Regions from separate parts of the Homo sapiens genome. Here region 2 is linked to region 1. A link means that fine-mapping ties the variant in region 1 to the expression of a gene that starts in the linked region. Tissue or cell type: whole blood. Region 1 holds a variant in brackets; the other region holds the start of a gene. Each region is shown on its reference strand, or each on the opposite one. Region 1 overlaps IKZF1 (IKAROS family zinc finger 1). Region 2 holds the start of RALB (RAS like proto-oncogene B).

Region 1 (2,500 bases):
TTAAATAAATCCTAGTGTACCCGTTATACATGAAATTATGGAAATATGACCCTGAGCATGGAAATATGTACATGAGAATGTCTAAAAGCTAGTTCATTTTGAAAAACAAAATAATGTCACCTCATATTATTTATAGTATATAAAGATGATTTTAAGAGTGGCAGTGTCTGGGATTATAGGTGATTGTATTTCTTCCCTTTTGCACATCTATGTTCTCTCATTTGTATTGTGTGGGGAGAAGTGACTTTTTTTATAAAAAGAAAAAGGTATATGCATCCCAGCAGAGAAGCACTGGCTCCACCCAGTACCTGCCTCCTCATGCCACCCTCTCAAGCCAAAAGCCGGGGGAAGCCCAGGCACCTTGACCATGACCGCCCGAGACTCACACTTCTTCTTTCTCATCAGGGAAGGAAAGCCCCCCTGTAAGCGATACTCCAGATGAGGGCGATGAGCCCATGCCGATCCCCGAGGACCTCTCCACCACCTCGGGAGGACAGCAAAGCTCCAAGAGTGACAGAGTCGTGGGTAAGTGGGTCACCAGCGGCCTCTGTGCCTGTGAAACCTTTATCTCTTTGTATTTTTCCAAGACAGTGATGAAGGGATGCAAGTCATTTTATCCATTGTGTTCCCTCAACTGGCATATTAAAGAAATATGGCACAAAGATCAGCAGGATGGGGGTCCTCTGGTGTGTGGGAGGATGGACACTCACAGGCCAGCATGGCCGTGAGAGCCACACACCCCGCAAAATGTCCAAGTTGAGGAGCAATCCTGCCCAGGGACGCGTCTCTGTCACTGTCCTCTGTCCTCACTGCACTTGCAGGAATATCAAATGTTATGGATTGTAGATCGTGAAAATTACACACTTACGTGTTTTGGCAACAGTGCTTTTCAGTGTTTGGGGTTAGAACAAGCCACATCTGGCCATTTTATGTTATCCCTCTAATCTCTAGTTCTTAAATTTCAGATTTAACTGAAAATAGAAAGTTTCATAAATGGTAATTTTTAAATGTTAGAAAAAAATCAAAGCACACATTTACATACCTTTTCCATAAAAAAGTGTGTGTGAAACCATCTGCAACTCCACTGGTTAACTTACACATGCGACAGTTTGTGTTTGGAAAACTTCACCCACCCTCTTTATTTCAAGAAACCAAAGACGGAGAGAAGTTCAGTGAATTAACCAAGGTGAAATGACAGAGTCAGAATTGAACTGAATTTCTGACTGAAAAACTAGTTCTCGCTCCATTATACCATGTTCTAATGAGCTAATGAGTCAACAGTTCCCTGGAATACCTGTTTTCTTCTTTAAAAAGAGAAAGAGCTGTGATACTGAGAGCTACCTATTGGCATAAAAGAATATGAAGGACATACAGGTAAAATGAGGTAGACTGGATCAATGTGGGTCAGCTACATAAGCCCCCATAGCCAAGGAGGGAACATGTATGTAAAATTCTCAGGCTTATGAGAATCACAACTGT[A/C]TGTCTATAGGACATCCTAATGCAATAATGGGAAAATGTGATAACTGAATTTTATCTACATGTATAGAAAACATATTTTGGGCCGGGCATGGTGGCTCAAGCTTGTAATCCCAGCACTTTGGGAGGCCGAGGCTGGCGGATCACAAGGTCAGGAAATCGAGACCATCCTGGCTAACACGGTGAAACCCTGTCTCTACTAAAAATACAAAAAATTAGCCGGGCGTAGTGGTGGGCGCCTGTAGTCCCAGCTACTCGGGAGGCTGAGGCAGGAGAATGGCGTGAACCCGGCAGGCGGAGCTTGCAGTGAGCCGAGATTGCGCCACTGCACTCCAGCCTGGATGACAGAGCCAGACTCCATCTCAAAAAAAAAAAAAAAAAAGAAAAAGTAAAGAAAACATATTTTGTATGTTTTTTATGTGTCTTAGAAACCAAGTGGACTAGGTATAATGGTTCTTTTTTTTTTTAACTCAGCAGCACAGTTAATGGCACAAACAGATAAAGATGGTGGCTAAAGCCATTTGGTGTAGATGAATCCAGAAAACAAGTACATTTATGAATTATTTTACCCTATTGGAAAATGGCTACTATATGTGGAAAGTAGAGGGGAAGAGAAATGAACTTGTGAATTATCTACTCTATTCTACCAAAGAAAGATACATATATCATTTCAGGGTTTTCCAAAGTTGGGATGCAAAGGATCATGTTTCATTTTAATTTATGTATTTATTTTTGAGATTGTCTTCTATGTATTGCAAGTGATACTGGTTTTACCATGCACTGTACCACTACGAGGGTTCCTTTCAAAACACATTCATATAAATTAAAAAATCAGTTTAAATAAAAACATCAAGTCAATAGTAGTACATAGATATGATAAAAGTTTGCAAAAGTGGCACAGGAATAGTCATTGGGTGGTGATGTTCCCTGATTTTTTTAGTCCCTGAAGCACCCAGCGCCAAGGGTACTGTTCTTCCTGCTTAACACAGGAGCAAACAGATGCTCACACCCTGCCCAAGAACAC
Region 2 (3,021 bases), not on the chromosome of region 1:
ACTTGCATTTGACAAAGGGTACCACCACAGCAGGCCCTTTCCACCAGGCTGCACGCGGTCACACTTGATACAGATGGGCTTTGGGAGATAAGGCTGTACCAGATTGGTGATCACACACTTGACTGTACATCGTGGCCTCTGGTGGCAATCACTAATGTAAGCTCACATTCCTGAGGCACTCACCAAGTTCCTAGCACTGTACTGAGAGCTCTATGTGGACTTGCATGTACATCTTCTTACCTATAGCATGGAGGTGCTGCTATTGGGCAGCTGGTGAAACTAAAGCCCACAGAAGTAGTTTCCTAATTAAGTAACTGCTAGTCACAAGGTAGAGCCCTCCTTTAATCCTATGCTTCCAGACTCCAAACCTGTGCACTTAACTGTTACTCCGTAAGAAAAGGTTTGGGTCTGATTCCTCTTCTAGGTTATAAATACTAGGGAGCTTCCTCTTTGAGAAGCCTCCTACCCCATCTCCTTACTGTACCTAGCAAAGTGTCTGTCATACGATTAGCACTCAATAAAAGTTTTAAATGTGAATGAGAATGGTAAAAACAGAATACTTAGTAGGCTAACACTAGGATATTCTTCTGATTGCACTTTTTTGTTAAGTTGGTCACTTAAGACTAAGGTAAAGCTTCTGTGCTTTTTGATATAGATGCTGATGGAGGGACTGGATCTGGTAGATACATAGCAATCTAATCATGGCCCAAAGCCTCCAATATAGTATACACATGCATCCTAACTTACAATGATCAACAATGAAAGAATTAATTACACTGTGCTAGCAGCCATGGATATCACATTGCATAAGAGATAGTTCCCTCCCTTAGAGATAAGAGGCAGACGTTTAAACTGTCAGTTGCGATGGCTTGTGACTCTCATGAGGTCTGCGTAGGGGTCAGCACGGTCACAAAACCTGTGGAGGAGGAGGTGGTTAGGAAGGAAAATCCACCGAGATGAAGCTGTACTGGATACAAAATCACACGTTCCTGGGCTTTGGCAGGGAGCTTGCCCACTGCACTTCCTGCCTCGAGGCTATGGCTGGGGTGGGATTCTGGCCCTTGTAGGCGGCCTGGGTCCAGTCTCCGCCATGCACTCACTAACTCCATTACTGCTAATGGGATGTCATCAGCGAAGCGAGTGGTGGCGGCAGGTGGAGTCCCGCCCCAAGACCCCCGGGCGGCATCCCCATCGCCGCGCTCCAGCACTCTTCGCCACCTCGTAATTTTCTTCTGTTTCTGTATGATCAGGTCTGTCCTTCGCTTTTGCTTTCCATTACTTCGTCCTAGCCCTGGCCTGAATCCCACAACTGGCGCCCCACCTTGTGCACCCGCACCCGCCCTCAATACCGGCGGGCAGCTCCTCCACTGCCGCAGGGTTACCAGCTGCGTGTCCGAGGGGCAGAGAGAGAAACAGAGGGGGACGGGGCAGGCGCGCTGGGCCCGCCCCCCCGTGCCTGGGGCAGCTTCTCATTGGTGAAACCTCCTCCCCGGCCGCCCGCTGCTTGGAAAATCAGCCTCGGATTGGCTGACAGCCCCCCGACGGGCGTGGCTTCCGAGGAGAGGGCAAGAACGGAAGCGAGGGCGCGCTCTCGAGAGGAGGGGTTGCCTAGGCGACGCCGGAGGCGCGCTCGGGGGGTGGGAAAGCGAGCCCGGCAGCTCAATGACAAATCGGTGGAGGACGGCTGGGGTCCGGCCCCGGGAGGGGGCGGGGCGCGTTTAAGAGCTGCGGGCCGGGTGCGGACGGCGGAGGCGGCGGGACTGGTCCCTGGTAAGGGCGCGGCGCCCGCGGGCCCCGGGCGGGGTGGGGCGCGGGCTGGGGAGTGGGGTACGCCGCACGCCCGCAGCCTCTTGCTCCCTCCGTGCCGGGCTGTGGCCGGGCGGCGGCAGGACATGTCGCGCCCCGAGGCCGGCGGAGGGCGACGCCCCGGCAGCGGCCCCGCTCCGCTCCGGGAGGACTCCCTGGGGGAGTCTCGGCTTCCTGGGCTGCCTGGGGCTGAGGAAGTGGGGGCGGCCTCCGCCTCTCCCTTGTAGCCGCGGTTCCTTCCCTATCCCGCAGATGGCTCTGCTTCCACTTCCTGCCGCGGGCCTCCCGCTCGGGACCGTCCACTTCCTCAGTCCTCCGGCCGCGGCTTGGGCAGGGTCAGGGCTGGGAAGTGTTGCAAAAACTTAACTGCCCTCGGAACTTGCACGCGCCGTGAACTGGGCGGTGTTCCTAAAGGGCTTCGGTTTGCTGGTTTTGTTTTGGTCCTGTCTTGCAAATGAGCATAAAGTTGTTTCTCCCCCAGCCTCCTCCCCTTTCCTTTCTGATAGGGGCCAGCGGCGAAGGGGCTTCTAAGGGGAAGCGCCTGGACTGGGCATCGCCGTCCCGGTTCTTGCCGCCTGTGGGAGTGTGAGGTTAACCGTGCTCGGTGCAGGGTTGCGGGGCGCGGAGCTTGCTGCGTCCACACTGCTTGTGTGAGCAGTGTCCTCTCTGTGCTCATTTCCAACGAGAAACGTTGGAACTTTGGTGTTCTTATCAGGTGAGTCTTCGGGAGAGAAGTGCTTGTGCCTGGCGGACTGAATGAATTGGCCGTGGAAGAGACTTGGCTGATTGCTCATCTGGGTTACCTGTGACTCATCTTCAGCCCTTGTAGAACAGTGCACTTTCTGCTCTGTCCTGGTTTCCTAACCTCATTTCTTCTGAAGTTTTGGGGATGGATGGTGGGCATGGAGTATCAGAGGGGATAGTGAATCTTTTAGAGGTGTCAATGACTGATGTTCCAAGCAGAGCCATAAGATTGTTGGATGTCAAAGCTCAGAACCGGTCAAGGCTCAGAATGCTCCTTAAACCTGGAGCAATAGAAGCACAGTATCGAAGTTCCCAGAAATGGGCCGACCATGAAAGGTAGCACTGCATATTGGGAAAAACAGGAGGGGTGAGTTTGAAGACCTGGGTTTGATGCAGGTTCTGAGAGTTTACCGGTGTTGTGATGTGGAGCACGATCTTTCCCCCTCTGAGCTCCAGAGTCAGCAACTGTAG

The links. PIP is the estimated chance that this variant, and not a neighbour inherited with it, causes the effect. A credible set is the group of variants that fine-mapping cannot tell apart.
Region 2: it holds the start of RALB, and the variant in region 1 is the best candidate, but not a certain one, in a credible set for the expression of RALB in whole blood (TOPMed, PIP 0.70).

Annotation. Positions count from the first base shown.
Region 1 is chr7:50,327,233-50,329,732 of GRCh38, forward strand. IKZF1 (IKAROS family zinc finger 1) reads left to right here. Exons shown (of 8, transcript NM_006060.6): 3 at 406-525. Among named protein-coding and RNA genes, the nearest start is that of IKZF1, 24 kb to the left of the region's middle. The variant A/C (reference allele first, on the strand shown) is at 1,480.
Region 2 is chr2:120,251,211-120,254,231 of GRCh38, forward strand. It overlaps RALB (RAS like proto-oncogene B), which reads left to right and starts at 1,642. Exons shown (of 5, transcript NM_002881.3): 1 at 1,642-1,770. RefSeq lists a silencer at 1,335-1,924 and an enhancer at 2,425-2,694.